Regions from separate parts of the Homo sapiens genome. Here region 1 is linked to region 2. Evidence: fine-mapped expression QTL. A gene starts in region 2. The other region holds a variant in brackets. All regions are shown on one strand. Distances are between the middles of the regions. Region 1 overlaps SFXN5 (sideroflexin 5). Region 2 holds the start of RAB11FIP5 (RAB11 family interacting protein 5).

The links. PIP is the estimated chance that this variant, and not a neighbour inherited with it, causes the effect. A credible set is the group of variants that fine-mapping cannot tell apart.
Region 1: its variant is the best candidate, but not a certain one, in a credible set for the expression of RAB11FIP5 in whole blood (INTERVAL, PIP 0.77).

What each region holds. Positions count from the first base shown.
Region 1 is chr2:73,034,975-73,040,344 of GRCh38, reverse strand. All of the region lies in intron 3 of SFXN5 (sideroflexin 5), which reads left to right. Among named protein-coding and RNA genes, the nearest start is that of SFXN5, 34 kb to the left of the region's middle. RefSeq lists an enhancer at 2,836-3,721. The variant A/G (reference allele first, on the strand shown) is at 2,146.
Region 2 is chr2:73,110,682-73,116,051 of GRCh38, reverse strand. It overlaps RAB11FIP5 (RAB11 family interacting protein 5), which reads left to right and starts at 3,104. Exons shown (of 6, transcript NM_001371272.1): 1 at 3,104-3,705. The coding sequence starts at 3,275. RefSeq lists silencers at 2,776-2,935, 3,006-3,095, 4,253-4,496.

The sequences.
Region 1 (5,370 bases), 76 kb after region 2:
CGTGTAGGAACTCAAATTAGAGATACCTGAAATGTTGAAGGTGGTGTTTTGTTTTGGGGAGGGGTAAGGGAAGGTAGTAGTTAATGATTACAGAGACTGATGGTTCATGTGCCAAAGTCTGTCTTTTTGTTCATAAACTTTATTTCAAAAACTTTTTCAAACATTAATTTAAACATTTTCAAAGTCATGTGTGCATAATTCAAGAAGTCAAATAGTACTAAAGTGCTTGTAAGGGGCTGGGCACGGTGGCTCACACCTGTAATCCTAGCACTTTGGGAGGCCGAGGCAGGCAGATTGCCTGAGCTCAGGAGTTCAAGACCAGCCTGGGCAACGTGGTGAAACCGTGTCTTTACTGAAAGACAAAAAATCAGCCGGGCATGGTGGTGGACGCCTGTAATCCCAGCTACTCATGAGGTTGAGGCAGGAGAATCGCTTGAACCTGGGAAATGGAGGTTGCAGTGAGCCGAGACTGCGCCACTGCACTCCAGCCTGGGCAACAAAGCGAAACTCTGTCTCAAAAATTAATAGAAATAAAATAAAATAAAATAAAATAAAATAAAATAAAATAGTGCTTGTAAGGAAAAATAGTATATGTTCCCTATCCCTCCCCAGTTCCCATGCCTGTTCCGCAGGAGCAACTACTTTTTGCTGTTCTGCAGATAGAAATTTATATTCTATCTTTCAGACAAATATGCTTATCTACACTGCTATTTCTCAATTAGTTCTTTTGGGTTATCTATTATGGTAGTTGAGGATTCAGCTCTCTTATCATCCACCCCTCTAAACACACTTCTTTCCGCCATCCATACTCACTCTTGAAATAGTTATCATGGTTTTGGGGCCTATACATATTCAGTCTTCATGTCGTTACAATTATAGAAATAACATTTACTGCATAGTCAGACTGGTTGTATCATGATTATGTCTCTTTTTCAAATTTGTTTTATCTGGAGTTAATAACCACCTCAGATTTTTCATTGGCATACTTTCCTTTGTACCATCTCTCACTCTCACTGTACCCTCCCGCGGCCTTTCAATACAGTCATACACCACATAAAGACATTTTGGTCAATAAGGGATCACATATATGACAGTGGTTCCATAAGATGATAATGGGGGCCAGGCGTGGTGGCTCATGCCTGTAATCCCAGCACTTTGGGAGGCCAAGGCGGGCGGATCACTTGAGGTCAGGAGTTCGAGACCATCCTGGCCAACCTGAAGAAACCCTGTCTCCACTAAAAATACAAAAATTAGCCGGGCATAGTGGTACATGTTTGTAATCCCAGCTACTTGGGAGGCTGAGGAGGGGGGAATCACTTGAACCTAGGAGGTGGAGGTTGCAGTGAGTCGAGATCACGCCACTGCACTCCAGCCTGGGCGACAGAGTGAGACTGTGTCTCAAAAATAGATGATAATGGAACTGAAAAATTCCTGTTGCCTGGAGATGTCTTGATGATCCTGACCCTGTGCAGGCCTAGTCTGTTTGTTTGTGTCTTAGTTTTTAGTTAGTTTTAAGAGTTTAAATAGTTAAAAAAAAGTTGAAAGTTTTAAAATAGAAAACTTACAGAATAAGGATATAAAGAAAAATATTTTGTACAATGTGTTTGTGTTTCAAGCTAAGTATTACAAAAGAGTCAAAAATCTGAAATTTAAAATTTTATAAAGTAAAAAATATACAGTAAGCTAAGGTTCATTTTATTGAAGAAATTTTTTTAAGAGGCAAGGTCTTGCTCTGTCACCCAGGCCTGGAGTGCAGTGGGGCGATGTAGCTCACTATAACCTCAAACTCTCAGGCTTAAGTGTTCCTCCCACCTCAGCCTCCTGAGTAACACACCACCACACCTGGCTAATTTTTTTTTAAAATAAATTTAGCGTGCTTAAATGTATGGTGTTTATAAAGTCTATAGTACTGTACGGTAATGACCTAGGCCTTCACATTCACCCACTACACACTCAGTGACTCACCACAGCAACTGCCAGTCCTGCAAGCTCCATTCATGGTAAGTGCCCTATGCAGGTGACCATTGTTTATCTTTTATGCCATATTTTTACTGAACTGTTTCTGTGCACAAATATACACAAACCGTTTACATACACAAATATCTACCATTGTGTTATAGTTGCCTATATATTCAGTACAGTAAC[A/G]TACTACCCAGGCTTGTAACCAGGGAGCAGTAGGCTCTACCTACGAGGTAGCCTAGGTGTGTTGCAGGCTTGCCCATCTAGGTTTGTGTAAGGATGCTCTATGCTGTTTGCACAATGATGAAATCACCTAATGATGCATTTCTCAGAACATATCCCTGTTGTTAAGTGACGCATGACTGTATTTTCAGTGCTCCTTGCAATCTGAAGATTTCTGTCTTTGAGTTTCTTTTTGTTTTCCTGAAATTTTCCTTTCTGGGGCCTACCTCCGAGTTCCAGGTCTTCCTTTTTCTTGGTATATTTCATCATTTTGGTGGAACACCTCTTCTCGTAGCTTCCTGAAAAAGGGTAAATGAGAAGAAAGTTTTGAGTCTTTTTATGTCTGAAAAATTATAATTCTGCACTCAGCCTTAATTGACAGTTTGGCTGAGGAGAAAATTCTAGGTTGACAATCATTTTCCTTCAGATTTTTGAAGACCATTGCGCTATTTTCTTCTGGGTTCCAATATAGCTGTTGAAAAACCTGATGCCGTTTCATTCCTGATTCTTTGCGGTCTGTTTTCTTTCTTTGGAAATATTTAGGATCTTCTCTTTATCTGTGAAATTTGTTTCTGAAATTCCACAATGCTGTTTCTTTTAAAATTTATCATTTTGGATTCTTCATTACCCCTTTCAATCTGAAGACTCCTGTCTTCAGCTCTGGCAAAATTTTTAATTGCTTTCATCACTTTTTCTCATTCTGGAACTTCTGTTAGTCAAATATTAGCCATCATAGGCTGACACGTAGGTTTTCTCACCTTTTTTCTCTTCTATCCATCTCTATGGGCCAGAAGCGAGGGTAGGGCCTGGGGGATAGAGCAGGTAGGAAGCTGGATGAAGTTCCTGTCTACACCACCAGAAACCAGGCAGTGACAGTGAAAGCACATGATACCATGGGAGAGCCGTGGAAGGGGTGACCCTCCCAGACTGAGGGCATCTGGAAGAGATTTCTCCCCTGAGATATGAGGGCTGACAGGGCTGGTGAAGAGCAGGTGGGGGTGGTCCAGGCAAGGAGGTGCACACTGTGCTGGAGATCGAGGGAGCAAGACCCTACAGAAGGAGGGAATGGGCGAATGTGCTAGACTGGAGCATGGTGATGGGAATAGAGGGCAAATGCATGAGCGGAAGCAGCACCTTGGCCAGATGCCCCTGTGCAGGGCCCTGGGAGAGTGACAGACCCGCAGTGCCTGCTTACATGGGGCCCATCTGAAGGCGTGTGCACTGCGTGCTGAGTCATGGGCAGCCGTCAGCCGGGAGGGCAGGCTGCGATCTCCTCTTCCCTGAGCAATGGGACTTCTCTCTGGCCATGAGCACCTAAGAGCCTGGATGGTGTGACCTGGTACCCCACCCTACTCAGGCCGAAGCAGTCCCCAGCCCTTTTCGTGTTCTTCTGAGACCTGTGAGAGTTGGGTCCTGCCTCTATGGCCTCCTGACCATGTGTTTCCTCCTGGCCCAGGCTCCGCTCTGCCCTTTTCTTGCTGAGGTTGGCCTCTTGGGACCCCTTCCAGCTCCCAGAGTTTGGGGAATGAAGCCACATTTCCTCCTCTTTGCTCCCTTCAGTAGCTTGAAGCTGCCTGTCCTGTTTCCCAGGCCTCCTTTGTTTTCTGTCCTGAAAGCCCCCATGTGCCTCAAGGGAGCTGAGGAGGAGGGGAACTGGGTGGAGGGGCAGCTTGGCACTAACTGTGCTTCCCGATTCTGGCTCATGTTGGTGATGCCTGCAGTGTCCATCTGGTGGCTGGGTAGCACAGTGCTCTAGGTGTGAGCCTGCCACTATGGCCCCCTAGAGGCAGATCCTCCCTCTCCCTCCCTTCCCCCAGCCTCCTGGCTCCCCCAGCACCAGCTCTCACAAATGCTTCCCTCCCTGGGCTTCAGTCAGCCAATCTACACCTTCCTCTGGCCTCTGCAGACACAGGAGCAGAGGGGATAAGTGGTGACATGGCAGCTCAGGGCTTGGGGGGCTTGGCAATCCATAGTTAACAGTCACTGTTCCTGGCCCAGGCTGGCCCTGCTCATCTGAAGCGGCCCGGGTGGTTCTTGTTCTCAGTCTGGACAGTGGCCTCACCTGCACCTGGGCTCTGCGCCTGCTCTCATGCCTTTGCAGGTGTGTGGGCCAGAAGCCTGCAACTGGGTCCTGAGGCCTGCAGGCCTGTCCTGGTGTTGTGGGCAGTGCTGGTTAACTTGTGACACTCTCTTTTTTTACCCAGTTTGTCATCTAACCTGACCTCCAGGTACAACACCTCACCAGTGGGTATGCGCAAATGTATTGATTGTTTGTTTGCTCCTGATGGCCTTGGTTTGGTCTTCTGTTGTGGGTGGCTGCTCTCTCCTCCAGGGACCGTTACCTTGTTTAAAGGTTGCTATACCAGCCAAGCGTGGTGTCTCACACCTGTAATCCCAGCACTTTGGGAGGCCAAGACAGGTGGATCACCTAAAGTCAGGAGTTCGAGACCAGCCTGACCAATATGGTGAAACCCCATCTCTACCAAAAATACAAAAATTAGCCAGGCATGGTGGCATGCACCTGTAGTCCCAGCTACTCAGGAGGCTGAGACAGGAGAATCGCTTGAACCCAGGAGGTGGAGGTTGCAGTGAGCCGAGATCACAGCACTGCACTCCAGCCTGGGTGACAGAGTGAGACTCGGTCTCAAAAAAAAAAAAAAAAAAAAAAAAGATTGCGATACCAATGAATCACTGGTTCTGAGGACAAAATAAAAATGAGTATAATTTAACTTTTGGGTTTAGCAGGTGAAAATTTGAAGAGCTAGTAACCGTAATAAGGACTGTAGCTATCAGTTAAAAAAACAAAACCATGGTATACAAAAATGTAAGCATAGACACAGCCATTAAGTTTCTGAATGTTGACTCTGATCTGTACACTTGTATATGCTGGGGCTTTGCCAGAATGATTTGGTGTGGATGGAGGAGGTGGGTGGGGCTAAATATGGAAGACCCCTCCCCATGGTGAGCCACCGCTCGCTGCATGCTTACGAAGTGGCAGGTATTGCACCATAAGTACTAGCGCTTTCCACATATTATCTCAGCTAATCTTCACATAAACTTGTCAGTAGGTACCTGTATCAACCCAATTTTCCAGTGAGACTCAGAGAGGTTGCATTATTTTCCTAAGGTCACATAGCTAGTATGTGGTGGGGCAGGGATCTGACACTGGGCCTCTTAGATCTAATGGGA
Region 2 (5,370 bases):
CCAAGAGTGATAATATATATAAAGTAATGGTAGAACCAGGACTCCAAAGCCCACAGATTTAATAATTATACTTTAGATGTCTCAAAAACCATAATGTATATAAAACAAACACATACAGTATAAAGACTAGAAAGAAACACAACAAATTATTAACAGTGTTTATTTATGGATGGTTGCGTTATGATTTATTTCCATTTTTTCTTTTTTTGAGAGAGAGTCTCACTCTGTTGCACAGGCTGGAGTGCAGTGGTGCGATGTTGGCTAACTGCAACCTCTGTCTCCCAGGTTCAAGTGATTCTTGTGCCTCAGCCTCCTGAGTAGCTGGGATTACAGGTGTGCCCCACCATGCCCTGCTAATTTTCATAGTTTCAGAAGAGACGGGGTTTCACTATGTTGGTCAGGCAGGTCTGGAACTCCTGACCTCAAGTGATCCATCCGCCTCGGCCTCCCAAAGTGCTGGGATTACAGGCATGAGCCACCAGGCCTGGCCCCATTTTTTATTTTTTTGAGACAAAGTCTCATTCTGTCGCCCAGGCTGGAGTGTAGCAGCACAATCTTGGCTCACTGCAACCTCTGCCTCCCAGGTTCAAGTGATCCTTGTGCCTCAGCCTCCCAAGTAGCTGGGACTACAGGTGCCCACCACCACGCCAGGGGAATTTTTTGTCTTTGTAGTAGAGGTGGGGTTTCACCATGTTGCCCAGGCTGGTCTTGAACTCCTGGCTTCAAGTGATCCACCAGCCTGGGCCTCCTAAAGTGCTGGGATTACAGGTGTGAGCCACTCCGCCTGGCTTGAGGTAAGAATCATTATCCCATTATCCAAATGGAGAAATAAGGCCAAGAGAGGTTAGAGAGTTGGCTTAAACTTCAGGTTTCATAGCTACTAAGAGGCAGATGGCCAATATCTGTAGGCAGATCTGGCTGTCTCTAAAGCTAGGTGCTATCGTCAGGGTTGCTGGACCATGGGGCTGGTGCCTAGGACTTCCCCACTCCAGTCTTCTGATGGAAGAGTTAAGGTGGGAGGCTGTGAGGACTGGGCCTGTGCTGGGTGTGCTATCATGGGTCTCCTCTGCCTACTCTACTGGTTTCCTAGGTTCATATTCCCAGTAGAGGACATGGCCTGGAAGGTGGACAGTTGAGGGGTACTGTGGAGTCTCCCTAAGAAGAAATACATGTTTCTCCTGTTGGGTATCCTATAGAGCACTGGTTCCCCACCTTTTTGACACCAGGGACCAAAATGTAAGTTTCCACAGACTGAGGGTGGCAGGGATGGTTTCAGGATGATTCAAGTGCATTACATTTACTGTGCACTTTATTTCTCTTATCATTACATTGTAATATATAATGAAGCAATTATATGACTCACCATAATGTAGAATCAGTGGGAGCCCTGACCTTGTTTTCCTGCAACCAGATGGTCCCATCTGGGGATGGGAGACAGTGACAGATCATCAGGCATTAGATTCTCATAAGGAGTATGCAACCTAGATCCCTCGCATGCACAGTTCACAATAGGGTTTGTGCTCCTAGGAGAATTTAATGCCACAGCTGATCTGACAGGAGGTGGAGCTCAGGCGGTAATGCGATAGGAAGCGGCTGTAAATACAGATGAAGTTTCACCAGCTAGCCCCTACCACCACTCACCTCCTACTGTGCAGCCCAGTTCCTAACAGGACATGGAGGGTTACCAGTCTGTGGCCCAAGGGTTGGGGACCCCTGCTATAGAGGAACTAAAAATAATAGCATAACTACACAAGATTGAGGGATGGAAGTGGGTGTGAGCCAGCTAAATCATTATCTATCATAGGAGGAAGGCAACAGACAGTGGCCAGTCCTGATAAATGCAGATGTAGCTATGTGAGCATCTTAATGTAGTGATGTGGAGGTAACCATCAGACCTGAAAACACCAGTGGCTTTAAGCAGCATCCCTGGATTGAAGGATGGAGAGGGAGTTCTTGCTTTTCATTGCAAGCCATTCTGTCCTATTTGATTTTTTTAAAAAAGCTGTGTGTATTATTTTTAAATTATTATTTTAAAAGTACAGGCTCTGAAAGTTAAAAAAAAAAAAAACGCTCTGGGGGCATCTAGTGGATTCACAACCCTCCCCCATCTGAGCTGACATTTTATCTTCTGGAAAATAGGGATAAAAGCCATACTCACCCCACAGAGTTGCTCTGAGGATAAAATGAGGTAATGCATATAAAAGCGCACTGACCAGAGTTGGCTGAAATTCAGCATCTATAATTACTAAACATCGTTATTATCAATAATAAACCAAGTATACGTTAATACTTAGGCCCTGGCACACAGTAGGCACTTAATAATGGGTGGAAGTAGTTATTTAACCCCCCACCAGGGCCTGTAATTTCCCCCAACCCGTGACACACTGGCCCCAAGGCTCCGAGTGAACACTTAAATATTGATGTGGTTACTCATTTATTCATCACTCGGCTCTCCGCCGCAGAGTCTGAGGAGGGTGAGCCCCGCTCTCGGGCCTCCCGCGCCGCCGCATGGCCGCATCCCGGCCCCCTGCGCCGGGAGAGATTGGAGGCGGCGGCAGCTCACCCGCTTCCAGGTCGCCGATGCGGGACCGTCACGTGGCGGGGCGGCAATCGCTCCAGTTTCACTCCGGCATTTTCCCCCGCAGGGGCGGACTGGAGGAGGGGAGAGCGCGGCCCGGGGTCAGGGGAGCGGCGGGGGTCCCCATCACCCCAAGTCCGCGCCAAGAGGCTGGCCATCCCAGGAACTGCGGGCCGGGACCCTTTTACGGAGAGGGCTTTCCGGAGCAGGGACTTTTAGAAGGAAGACGTGGGATTGGCCTGGAGGCGCAGAGCGGGTTTTTCGTACCTGGCCGCGGGTGTAGGGCTCCCCACAAGCGAGGCCGGGTTGCTTCGGGCGCCCCCAGCCAGGGGCGGGGCCACCGCGGGAACTCCGCCCACCCTCTGCAGAGGCCGCGCACCGCCCCTTCCCGCTCCGGGCTGGTCTGCGGCTGCCGGGGCGCGAGCTGCGTGCCCGCATCCCTGTCGCACCGCCTCGCCGGTTGGGGCGGCGGGCGCGGGGCGGGGCAGGGGGCGGGGCGCTGACGTCGCGGCGCGGCCCGCGGCCAGCGGCCCGGTGAGGCGGGGAGGCGGCGGCCGGTCGGCCCGGCCCAGCCCAGCCCGCAGCTGCGGCGGCGCTCAGAGTTGGTTCCTGACCGCCTTCTGCCGCGGCCGGGTTTGTCACCAGGTCCTGGGGTCTGCACCGGCTCGGCCAGACCTCGCCCCCCGCTTCTCCGCCATGGCCCTGGTGCGGGGCGCGGAGCCGGCGGCGGGGCCTTCCCGCTGGCTGCCCACGCACGTCCAGGTGACGGTGCTGCGGGCCCGCGGGCTGCGGGGCAAGAGCTCGGGAGCGGGCAGCACCAGCGACGCGTACACGGTGATCCAGGTGGGCCGCGAGAAGTACAGTACGTCGGTGGTGGAGAAGACGCACGGCTGCCCCGAGTGGCGTGAGGAGTGCTCCTTCGAGCTGCCGCCGGGGGCCCTGGATGGCCTGCTGCGGGCGCAGGAGGCCGACGCGGGCCCGGCGCCCTGGGCCGCGAGCTCCGCCGCCGCCTGCGAGCTGGTGCTCACCACCATGCACCGCTCGCTCATCGGCGTCGACAAGTTCCTGGGCCAGGCCACGGTGGCGCTGGACGAGGTCTTCGGCGCAGGCCGCGCCCAGCACACGCAGTGAGTAGGGGGCGCGGGGGCACAGAAACGGCTAAAGGCCTAACAGGGCGGGGCTGGTGGGGGATCAGGACCCCGAACTTCAGCCGGGCCAGTGAGCCCTTGCCTCGTGCTTAAGGGCGTAAACCGACAGAAACGTTGGTTCTTCGCATTTCGGGGTCGTCTTCAAGCTTCCCAAACGTGCGCTGTGTGGGGCTCAGCCACTGGTGGTCCCTGGGAGGCCTGGGGGAGGTTTAAGTGGTGGCGAACGTTAGGAGTAGATTGTCAAGTAAAGTTAGGAATGAGATTCAGAGGCTTTGGGGCTATGGAAACCTCAAGAAGGGAAATCTTGGGGCCGTTCTTAGAACCTCCGGGCCTGCCTCCCTTTCCTCAAAGGGGAGGGGAACTGCGGGCGCCTGTCCGGCAGGGGAGTGGAGAGGCGCAGCCTTGCCCTACGGGGGAAGGAAAGCCAGGTGTCTTCCTCCAGGGCGAGGTTGAATGTTGATTACCCCGCTAAACGTAGAAGCTGGCTGCAGGGGGCATCTGCCTCTTGCTCTCAAGATGCCCTCCACTATCTAGAGATGTCACCCCCCCACCCCCATCCTGTCCCTCTGTGTCCTGTGTCCCTGGTCTGAGGATAGGAGGAGCTTCTAAGTTAAGGAAGGAAACACTTGAGTCAGCCTTCCAGTGGCCTGCCTGCCTGCCCTGCCCTGCCTGAGGTAGAGGCAGCGGCATGGTTAATGAACAGCAGGAGATTATCTCCCGGTCACTTCCACCTCAGTGGGCCAGGGTTTTTTTAAATCATTTATTTTGGCAGCATTTAACCTTGCCTGTGTTAAGATCAAGGCTTCAGCCTTGGAGCCCCATTTCCTGTTTTGGGCTTGGGCAGGAGCTGGAAGCCAGTCCCCGGGGCTGACAGCCTGCTGTGGATCACTCAAGTGGTTAACTTGGGAGTGATCTGGGTAGGAGGGTAAGGGGATTGGGGCAGGACTGTGCCTTAGGTCAGGAGAGGTGCCGGAAAGGTTTGCCCCAGTGGAATGGCATCCACTGAGTGAATAAATCCAGGAAGGCTTGCTGGAGGAGGGGGATGAGCCTGGTGCAAACCCAAATGAAAGCAGGATTTAGGTAAAAAGGATCTGACCTTGAATGTTTTCTGAAACATGGGTGTGGAATGACTTTCCTGGCTGGCTCTCTGTGGTCTGGGATGGGGAGGGCGTTAGTGCAGGTTCCAGGCATGGCTGTGACCTGACTCCATTTCCCCATCCCCTGGCCTGCTCCCCGCCTTCCTTCATGACTTGCTGTTTGGTGGCAGGGTGTGGGATCATGTGGTATATAGCTTGGACCTTGTTTTTTTCCTCCTTTCTGTCCTCTCCCTCCTTCCTGGTTCCTGGAGCCCAAGGGGGTGGGTATATGGGGCGAAAAGCTCTCTCCTGGATCTCTTAGCCCATTCTTTTTCAGAAGAGGTGCCTATCCCCCAAATCATTCCACCCCTTCCCCCAGTCCTTCACCCTCCACCAATCAGCTACTCTGACCAGACTGTTAGATGACACATCTGTTCAGGGGGTGCTGGGGGAACAGGAGGAGGCAGACCAAAAAAAGGCTCCAGGCCTGCAGGGAGCAGCTTCTTTGATTGTTTTTTCCAGTTCCTGCCCTTGCTTTCCTCTTGGCCTCTGGATCTTCCTTAGCTGA